Regions from separate parts of the Homo sapiens genome. Here region 1 is linked to region 2. Evidence: fine-mapped expression QTL. A gene starts in region 2. The other region holds a variant in brackets. All regions are shown on one strand. Distances are between the middles of the regions. Region 1 overlaps TIE1 (tyrosine kinase with immunoglobulin like and EGF like domains 1). Region 2 holds the start of TMEM125 (transmembrane protein 125).

Region 1 (5,365 bases), 36 kb after region 2:
TCTGTAACTGGAAAGAATATCCACTTCACTGGTTGTGAGGATCCAGTGGAAAATGGGGGTTGGTATGTGGTGGGCGGTCAGTAAATGCCAGCTTCGTTTGCTCATGGTAGCCTTTCAAACACTGATAAGCTAGGTGGCATTTAAACTAATGAACTGCTTGACAGTCAGCTACAAGAGACAGAGAAGGAAGGGCTTGGCTGGTGGAGGGGTTCTGGGTCCTGGAGCTAAGGCAGGCTCGCAGGCTCTCCACCGTCCAGACTGGACTCTGACTCCACCTGATCTCTCCTGCCTCAGCCTCACATTTTGTACTCCAGTCACACAAACCTGGAGAGCCCCCTCCACCTGCCACAATATTGCCACTGCAGGCCTCTGTCCAGGCTGTTCCCTCTGTCTAGGATGCCCTCTCCCTGCCCCTGATTTCTCTCCCTCCCCATTGTCCTCACGCCAATGTGCCCTGCTCCAACTGTACCTCCCAGGAAGCATCTCTTCATCTCCCTGAGCTCCCCCAGGCTGGAGCAGGGGTCCCTTCTCTGTGCTCAAAAGCACAGCGCCCTACATTTGGCAGCTGTGTTCATGCCTGTTCCTCCAACTAGGGCGTGAGCTCTTTGGAAGGCAAACAAAGACCAAGACCTACCTCGTGTCTGTGTCTGTCTGGGCTCCAGGCCTTGCCCTGGGGCTGCCCTCCCTGGCTCTGGGCCCAGCCCCAAGCTTAGCTCCATTTCTTTTTGTTTTTCTTTTTCTGGAGAATGGGGTCTTGCTATGTTGCCCTGGCTGATCTCAAACTCCTGTGCTCAAAGGATCCTCCCACCTCTGCCTCCTTAAGTGCTGGGATTCCAGGCGTGAGCCACCGCACCCAGCCCTAGCTCCATTTCTGTGCCACAACCTTCTGGCTGCAAAACTCAGCCTCTCCCACCTCAAATCCCAGCCCACCAGACATTTCTAGATCTCCATAGTGACAGAGAGGGGGACCCATGGGACACTTCTGTTCTGGCTGGCTCTCCTGGCCTGCACTCTCGTGGTGGAGGCAGGGAGAAGTGGCTCACAGCAACCTTTGCAGGGCAGTTTTAGAGACGAGTGGGGAAACAGGACTGATAGAAATAAAGTGAGGAAACGGAGACAGGGAGCATAGATCATTCTTTCCGAAAGCTGGGGCGAAAGGGAAGCCATCTGGCAGGAGAAGGGAGGGGACACGGCCAGAGAAGGATTCGTGGTTTTGTTTTTGTTCTTTTAGAATGAAGAGACTTGAGGGAAAGAGGCCAGTGCGCATGGAAGGGGAAAGGAGGGGGATGGGAATGCCTGATAAAGTGAGGCCTGTGGGGTCTGAAGAACCGGGCAGGGGAAGGAAGAGGGGTGAAGGTTGGAGACCCTCTTCTGAGTGGACGGTGGATCAGTAAGACCAGAGGGCTGGGGCTGGGGGCTCTGGGGCACTAGGGTTGGCTGGGACTACAATAGAGTCACTGGTGTCCTGGCCCCAGGCGCGGCGGTGGACCTGACGCTGCTGGCCAACCTGCGGCTCACGGACCCCCAGCGCTTCTTCCTGACTTGCGTGTCTGGGGAGGCCGGGGCGGGGAGGGGCTCGGACGCCTGGGGCCCGCCCCTGCTGCTGGAGAAGGACGACCGTATCGTGCGCACCCCGCCCGGGCCACCCCTGCGCCTGGCGCGCAACGGTTCGCACCAGGTCACGCTTCGCGGCTTCTCCAAGCCCTCGGACCTCGTGGGCGTCTTCTCCTGCGTGGGCGGTGCTGGGGCGCGGCGCACGCGCGTCATCTACGTGCACAACAGCCCTGGAGGTGAGTTAGGCAGGCGGGGGGATGGCGCGGGGAAAACCAGGCCGCTGACCCACCTTCCACCCCGCAGCCCACCTGCTTCCAGACAAGGTCACACACACTGTGAACAAAGGTGACACCGCTGTACTTTCTGCACGTGTGCACAAGGAGAAGCAGACAGACGTGATCTGGAAGAGCAACGGTAAAGAGGGGCATTTGAACTGGTGGGGAGGGTAGACCCATCGTTCTGAGGCCCCAACACTTTCATGACCCATGGGACCCTCAGCTTTGGCCCCTGACACACCCGACCTCCAGGGCCTCTCCTCTGTAGTGGACCAGGTCCCATGGGATGTGCCTGCACCCATCTTATCTGTAGTTCTGAGCTGCCTTCCTTCTGTACACAGAGGGCCAGGAGCCTGTGGTCAGCTGCCCCTTC[C/G]CTCTTAGCCCCAAATGAGCACGATGTTAAACCCTCATCTCTCCCCTGGGAGTTAGCAGGTGCTGTCACATAGCCCACCTGGCAGACCGCATCAGTCCCCCTGAGGAGGAAGAGAACTGGTAACATCATGCCCAACACAGGCAGGGCAGAGTCTAGCCTCTCCCAAAGATCTGTCCAGCCCAGATCCTTGATGCCCAAGACAGCCTCATGCTGAGGCCTGGGTAGACCCGTGGGATCTCAGTCCCAGGCCTGTCCTCCACCCTGACCCTTTGGCCACCCCATAGAAGGAAGCTGTTTTCCTATGTGGCCCCAAGATTCCTGCCTCAGTCCTCAGATTCACAACCCCTTGGCTGACTCTTGCATACCTGGGCTCCTGAGGGAGGAAGACCCTTCCCTTTGGCCAAGGGGGCTGCCTCCTGAGCTCTGGACCCCGTGAATTGACAGGAAATGTGAAGAGGCACAGGCAGACCTGGGTCTCTAGGCTCTCTGTTCAGCCCTGAGCAAAGAGGCAAGAAGCGGGTGGGGCAGCGACTGGAGCACTCTTCTAAGAGGGAGAGGCTCAGGGGAGAGACCCTAGAGTAGATGGCACTTGAATTGTGCTCAGAGGAGAAGTGGGAAGACAAAGAAGGCAGAAAAGGAAGGAAGGGCCTTCCAGGAGGAGGGACTGAGAAGAGCAGTAGGGTCTGAAACACAAGGGTGTTTCTAGAAGAGAAACAATCCATTCAGGAATTCAGGAATGTTAGGAGTCAAGAAGGGTGTGAAGACGAATGGGGCTGGATGGCTTGGCCACGGCCAAGTTGGTGAAAATGATGTCTAAGGAGCTGGATTTTTGTCCTGAGGTCACTGGAGAACCAGGAGAGTTTCAGCAGAGGAGTTAGAGAGGAGTCTGTTGTAAAAAATCACCCTGGCTGCTGGGTGGAGGAGGGACAAGAAAGGGTGACACTGGAGGCAGAGGAGCCTTGTGAGGCCCCTGGAGGCTAGGACCAGGGCAGTGGCAGTGGGTGTGGGGAGAAGCGGACTGGGTTAGGGGATGAGGAGGAGATGGACTGAGCAGGACTTGGTGATTTACTGGGTGGCTGGTGGAGCATGAAGAAGAGGGCACTTCTGAGCTTTCTGGCGTGGGCATAGGCTCTCGTGGTGCCGGCCCTAGGTCTCATCACTGTGCATGGGGCTCATTGATGTGAGCTGAGCAGAGGTGGACAGAGAGAGGTGACACAGCCCTCATGTAGTGCTGAGGCCCCTGACACATTCATGTCCCCCAGGATCCTACTTCTACACCCTGGACTGGCATGAAGCCCAGGATGGGCGGTTCCTGCTGCAGCTCCCAAATGTGCAGCCACCATCGAGCGGCATCTACAGTGCCACTTACCTGGAAGCCAGCCCCCTGGGCAGCGCCTTCTTTCGGCTCATCGTGCGGGGTCAGAGGCAGAGGGCAGAGGTTGTGGGTAGGGTGGGAGGCTGGGAGCCCTATGGGTACTTCCTGTGGGTCCCCTGGAGCCCCTGGATCTCCAGTCCTCAGTGGTCAGGTGGGTGAGGGTCAGCTGCTGAAGACACCTTCCTCCAGGTTGTGGGGCTGGGCGCTGGGGGCCAGGCTGTACCAAGGAGTGCCCAGGTTGCCTACATGGAGGTGTCTGCCACGACCATGACGGCGAATGTGTATGCCCCCCTGGCTTCACTGGCACCCGCTGTGAACAGGGTAAGGAGGAGGGGAGCTAGGACCCAGGCAGGAGAGGATCCCTGACTGGGAGAAGACCCTAGAACCATGTGGGTGGAGCTTGGAGGGTAAGGGCGACAGGCAGGTCCTGGGCCCAGGGGCCCACAGAGGCCCATACACCCCACACACTCTCTTTCTAGCCTGCAGAGAGGGCCGTTTTGGGCAGAGCTGCCAGGAGCAGTGCCCAGGCATATCAGGCTGCCGGGGCCTCACCTTCTGCCTCCCAGACCCCTATGGCTGCTCTTGTGGATCTGGCTGGAGAGGAAGCCAGTGCCAAGAAGGTATGCCTAACCTACCCTCATGGTCCCTGACCAAGACAGCTGGCCAGGAGCTTGACCCGGACCCTCCACTCTGCCTCTGACTTACGCAGCAAGCCCTCCTGCTCACTTGACCAGTCCTTCTATCCTCAGCCTGTTGTATAACCTGTGCCCCATCTGCGCCCTCATCTGTGCCCTCATTGCCCCCTGTCCCATGCCCCTCTAATCATACCTCCTCTATTCCCAGCTTGTGCCCCTGGTCATTTTGGGGCTGATTGCCGACTCCAGTGCCAGTGTCAGAATGGTGGCACTTGTGACCGGTTCAGTGGTTGTGTCTGCCCCTCTGGGTGGCATGGAGTGCACTGTGAGAAGTCAGGTATAAGCACTATGACCTCTGAGAGCCCCCCAAGATAAGTCGGCCTTTACCAAACACATCTCCCCGGTGGAAGAGAGTAGTCCCTCCTTTCCCTACGAGGGTCCAAGTCCTGCCCTCAGGGAGCTTAGAGTCTGATGGACAGGGAGCTCTGGCAGGGAGTCAGTCTGGTAGGGAGTCAGTCCAGCAGGGAGCCAGTCCAGCAAGGAGCTCACTGCCAGCCAGCCATAGTGGAAAGGGCAGCAGCCCAGAGAATGTGGGAGCCCAGAGGATGCCCCTGGGCAGACTGAGCAGGTCAGAGAAGGGTCTGGAAGCAGGTGTGATCTGAGATTAGATATGAAGGACAAAAGAGAGATAACTGAGGAAAGAACAAGAGCAAAGACCCAGGGATTGGGGACTCAGGTTTGGGTGCCAGGACAGTGGAGTAGGGGACCCAGGGATTGGGGACTCAGGTTTGGGTGCCAGGACAGTGGAGTAGGGGACCCAGGGATTGGGGACTCAGGTTTGGGTGCCAGGACAGTGGGGTAGGGGACCCAGGGATTGGGGACTCAGGTTTGGGTACCAGGACAGTGGAGTGGGGGACTGGGGAAATGGTCAGAAGAGGTCAAATCGTGGGGCCTTTGAATGAAGGCCAAAGAGTTTGCACTTCATATGATGGGGCAAGAGGGAATTGTTAAAAAGGAACAAGGTAGTCAGATCCGTGTTGGAGAAAGGACCCCTAGCTGCTGGCCGGGGAGCGGGAGCAGGAGACCCTCGAGGACTCTGTACCTAGGGACCAGAAATGATGAGGCCTGAGCTAGTGTGCTGGCTGGGAGGATG
Region 2 (5,365 bases):
TAGTGCTGAGGAGAAACATAAGGAAATAAAACACAAGGGCAGGGGATAGGAAGTACTGGGAGGTTGCAATTTGAGATGAGGTGGCCAACAAGTCTCCCTGAGAAGATGCCATTTGAGAACATTCCTGAAGGAGGGAGGGAGGGAGGGAGCCATGTGGGTCAGAAGCATTCCAGGCAGATGGAGCTGCTGGTGCAGAGGCTCTGAGGCAATAGGAATGAAGCCAGAGAGGGCCTTATGGCGGTGGGAGGACTCTGTTCCTCTGAGGAAGGCGGGCTGCTGGAGGGACTCTGCACCTCCTAACTGAATCACTCGGGCCACTGGGTTGAGAACAGCCTGTGGTGGGAACATGGCAGAAGCTGGGAGACAGCCCCACAGCCTCTGTGTTCTCCCCACAGTACTCCCATTCACCACCTTCTTGTGGATCTGCGGGTGGTTCGTCCGCACCTTCCGCTTTGTGCCCACGGCCACCTCCTCCTCCTGACCTTCACCGTCACCAATCTGAATTACCCCAACAACCTCTGCTTTGGGGACAGAGTTCAACAGCCCTGTGAAGAGCCTGCCTTTCCACTTGACTCCAAGTTACTTGATAAGACCCAGAACTAGAATAGAGACTTGCCCAATCAATGTTTAAACCAACGAAGCTTTTAGGTGTTGTTTCTCCCATCCAAAAATTTCCCTTCAAACCCCTAAGGGAAGGGGTAAAGGAAGGAAAATTTCATGGGTCCCCTGCTGCAGCTCTGCCTGGGACAGCTGGCCCATGGGTCTGGCTGGGACTGGACCTGGGGACCAGGGTGGGTAAATAAATGTCAGATGTGTGCAAGAGGAATCTGCAGCCAGCAAGCCCTGTTGGGCCCCTGGCTCCCCTGCTCCTCTGAGTCAAGCCCCTTTATTATAAAGGGGATACCTTTATAATGCTTTGCAAATTGGCAGGATGAACACCTGCAATGCCACACCACTGTCTCCCCACCCCACTCCGCCCAACCATCCTCCTGATCCAGACTGCACTGACCTTTTTCTGAGGGAAAGGACATCTAAAGCCATGCCATCCAGTAAGGACACAGCCACATGACAGATGTGGTGCCTGGGCATTTGCAGTGTGGCTGGGATAAATGAGATGCTCTGTAAGTATAAAATAATACCTACCAAATTTTCAAGACTTTTGGTTCACGCCTGTAATCTCAGCACTTTGGGAAGCCAAGGCAGGAGGATCGCTTGAACCCAGGAGTTTGAGAACAGCCTGGACAACATAGCGAGACCCCCATCTCTATTTTTAAAAATAAAAATAAAATACCCTGTACAAAATAAAACTGTAAAATAGCTCATCAATAACATATATAAAAATGTGTTTTGGAATTAAAATGTATTAATTTAAATGTATTAATCTCATGGGTTTCTTTTTCATTTTTGAATGCAGCTATTAGAAAAGTTTATATATGTAGCTCACGCTATATTTCTTTTTTCTTCCCCGTGCCCCAGCCCCCGCCCGCAGACGGAGCCTTGCTCTGTCACCCAGGTTGGAGTGCGATGGCACAATCTCGCCTCACTGAACCTCTGCCTCCCAAGTTCAAGCAATTTTCCTGCCTCAGCCTCCTGAGTAGCTGGGATTACAGGGGCCTGCCACCATGCCTGGCTAATTTTTGTATTTTTAGTAGAGACGAGGTTTCACCACGTTGGCCAGGCTGCTCTTGAACTCCTGACCTCGTGATCCGCCCACCTCAGCCTCCCAAAGTGCTGGGATTACAGGCGTGAGGCACCATGCCCGGCGGCTCAGGCTATATTTCTAGCGGACAGGGCTGTTCTAGAATTATGACTGGCCTCCAGTCATCTCCGCAGAACAAAGCAAAGAGATGCGAAAGCAGGTCGAGCACCATTATTTTGTGAACTGATAATAACAAGATAAGGGTGATCTTGTTTTTCTTTTCTAGTTCATACACATCAGGAGGAGAAAGCAAGAGACATCACAGGGGCTGATCCAGGAGATGAGGGACAGCCTACAACAGCTCCAGCCAGCCTGCCCTTCACCAGTCCGGAGGGTGGTGTGTGTGTGGTGCCAGATTTGCCTATTAGAAGCTCCCACCATGTCCCTATTAAACTTTAGAACCCTCCATGGGCCCCTTACACAGCCCAAGTGCCTCACTATGGGCCTTCAAGACCCTGAACAGCCTGAGCCAAACTTGTCTTTCCAGCTTCCTCTCACATGCTTCCTGCTCAAAACCCCCACAGCTGTCAGTTCATGCTATCATTTAGTCTGCTAATCAATCATTCAACAAATATGTATTGATTACGTCCTACATACTAGCTACTGAGGTCATGATGATTAGCAAAAGAGGCACTGTCCGTCTGCTTGCTGGGGACCACACATCTAGCAGGGAATGACAGGTAAATACATAATAGGCAATTAAGCATATTGCAGTAAGAGTAGTTGTTGGGGAAGCACAGGGGCCATGGGTGCACCAAAGAGGCACCTCTAAACCAGCCTGCAAGTCAGGGAAGGCTTCCTGGAGGAGGTGGCATCTCAGTTGAAGAATGCAAGTTGCCCAGACTGAGGCTGGGGAGTGGCAAATATCCCAGGCAAGGGAGAACTCTTGAGTTCAAAAACTGGAAGGGCAGAGAGGAGGGCAGGGTGCCAGTGGCAAATGACTGGCCTGGTGTATATGGCAGGGGCTTTATGAGCCTTGTGAAGGAGTGTGGCATTTCTTCTGAAGTGTTTATTCTGGGAGTTCCTGTCTCCTGCCTGAAAGGCCTTCACCCCTCCTCCCTGTTCACTCAAATCCTGCTTCCCCAGTAGGATCCAGTCTGTGGGGCTCATTTGAGGGAGAATGAGCACGGGGCTTTTGGAGGCTGCAGCCTAGGGCCAAGGGATGGAGGTACTGGGGCTGTGTTTGGGGGTCCGCTGATGTTGGAATTTGGGGCTAAAGCTGGGTTTGAGGTTGGCGTTGGGTTTGGGGGCTGGATTCAGGAACAGGAGTCGAGGTTCGGGCTGAGCGTGAGGTTGGGATCTAGGACCTTAGTCCAGAATTTGAGTTGGAGTTAGGAGTTGGGGGCTGAGGTTTCTAGCCAGATTAGGGGTTGGATTTGGAGTTGGGACTGGAATTGAATTTGGAAATGGGGCTGGGGGTTGGGGCTGAGATGTGACGCAGGAGCTGGGGCAGGGGTGGAAGCTGGGAGTTCTAGCTAGGGTTTGCAGCTGCAGCTAGAGTTAGGGGTTGGTTTTGAAGCTGGAGCTAAAGCTAAATCGGGGTCGGAGCTGTGGAATGGGTTGGCGCCCAGGCTCTGGGGCAGATAGACGACATTCCTCCTGCTGCCCAGGTCTGCGAATTGTGTTCCGAGCCCTAACTGCAGCGGACAGAAGCCCCTCCCTTCACAGGAATGCCTCAGCCCAGCAGAAGGAGCAGTGCCACGTCAGCCAATCGGCTCAGGCCCTGCCCTGGAAACGACACCTGTTCATCCTCCTCCCGGCAGGCTCACCTGAGTGCAGGTTAGGCAGGTGAAGTGTCTCCCCGGAAACCAAGCTAGAGTGCCCCACCTGCTCGGCCCTGCCTTCTCGGATCGGATCCAGCACATCCAGGCTTCTCGTGAGTTCCCCCATTGTCCCCCAACGCCCCACCGCCCCCATGTTCTCCCACTCGCTTCTCCCCTGAGAACCTCCACCCCGCCCCCAGCCTGACACCCGTTGTCTCAGCACACCTGTGCAAGCATTTTCAGACCAACGAAGTCACAGCCCAGGGGAATGCTGGGACTGACTCCACGGCCACGCCCACCTCCCCCACTTCCTTGAGAGCATCGGCACCAGCCCCCGCCCACCTCGGGGGTAGGGGTCAGCCTCTGCAGAGGAGTCTCCGGGAGGACAGATACCTCGTCAGGATGTAACCTGTGCACGGCCACATAGTAATATTCCCAGAATGACCCAGGACCTACGTCTTCTGCCCTGTCCTGCCTTGGAGGGGTAACATCGTTTTCATGTATTCAAAAAGCACGCTTTGAGCATCTATGCAGGCTCTAGGCCCCACTGGAATTCTGAAACGAAGATGTCAGGTGACTCATCCCCACCCCTCAAGATAAATGTTATTGTCTTCACTTTTCAGACAAGGAGACTGAGGCTCTAAGAGACGAACCATTCAGGCTTCCTGGCCCCTCCCCCAGACCCCTCTCCTGGGCTCTGCAGGGCTCTGGGCTGACTAACCCACACCCACACTTAGCACAGGCACTGGCCTGCTTGCTTCTGTCTCTGTCTTCTGCTGCAGACTGGGGCTCCTTGAAGGCAGGGACCTCATGTGCTTTATTTTTGCCCAATGTGAGACATGCTTTCCTCTGGAGGACAGGTTAAATCAGCAGCCACTGTTAGGTGCCTGGCCATGTTCCTACCGGTGGGAAGGACTGGAGCTGGGGTTCAAATCCAGAGCCCTCCTTTTTCCTTTGCTCCACTTTAGAGAAATCGTGGAGGAGGATGGCATGGGGGAATGGCGAGTGTGGAGAAGAGCAAGGGGAGCAGAAAGACCAGTGAGGAGGTGGAGGCGGGAGCCAAGGATACGAGAGCAGGGAACTGGCTAGAGAAATGTTTAGAGGTGGAGCCCCAGGGACAGGACGTGGATTAGATACAGCAGAGGGAGGAGGAGCTGGCTGAGAGGGCAGTGATGCCATGCCTGAAGTGAGGAACGCAGAAGGAACAGGTTGGAGTAAGACAACGAGCTTGGGTTGGGACCTGTTGCATCACAGGGACATCAAGGTGACAATTGACTCAGGACGGAGATGTAGGTTGGAGAGAGGAATTTGGGAACTGGCAGCTTATATTACCAAACTCATGGCTGTGAGATTGGATGGGATGTTAGGGGAGGGAGGGTGTTAGGGGTCTGGTCCTAACCCACAGAGAAGGAGGAGACACAGCCCTAAAAGAGAAGTGTCAAGGTCAGTCAGGCTTCTGGTTCCAGAAGGGTTAAGTCATAAGCGCCCCCTCCATCCCCACAGCTCCTCCCGAGGAACCAGTGGTGACAGCTGAGGCCATGTGAGTAGGATCCTGAATGAGGCTTTATCTCTGGCTGTTCGTCCCATCGTCCACCGTGGCACCAGCTCCCTCAGCCAGCCGGGATGGGACCAGCGACTGAGAGAGCCAGAGGCAGAGAGGTCAGGGCCTGGGTGAGGGGATTCCCTGGAGGGTTTTAGGGGGTACCCTATGGGCAGGGTACTCCCCTGGGGTCATTGGAGAGCCATTCCCAAGGGACAGTACTGCAGAGGGGGCTATCCCAGGGGAGATTCGGGGGAACACTGGGGTGGATTCTCAGGGATCATCCCCAAGGCTCCCAGGTGGGACCGTGGGGGACAGGTGGGCTGGGAAGGTAAGACTGTGATCCTTCCCCTACAGGTGAGG

Evidence for each region. PIP is the estimated chance that this variant, and not a neighbour inherited with it, causes the effect.
Region 1: its variant is the best candidate, but not a certain one, in a credible set for the expression of TMEM125 in tibial nerve (GTEx, PIP 0.71).

Annotation. Positions count from the first base shown.
Region 1 is chr1:43,303,376-43,308,740 of GRCh38, forward strand. TIE1 (tyrosine kinase with immunoglobulin like and EGF like domains 1) reads left to right here. Exons shown (of 23, transcript NM_005424.5): 2 at 1,476-1,790; 3 at 1,858-1,968; 4 at 3,465-3,620; 5 at 3,767-3,898; 6 at 4,057-4,197; 7 at 4,421-4,549. Among named protein-coding and RNA genes, the nearest start is that of TIE1, 5.1 kb to the left of the region's middle. The variant C/G (reference allele first, on the strand shown) is at 2,203.
Region 2 is chr1:43,267,219-43,272,583 of GRCh38, forward strand. It overlaps TMEM125 (transmembrane protein 125), which reads left to right and starts at 2,765. Exons shown (of 4, transcript NM_144626.3): 1 at 2,765-2,867; 2 at 3,463-3,575; 3 at 4,966-5,121; 4 at 5,360-5,365. RefSeq lists an enhancer at 2,396-2,899.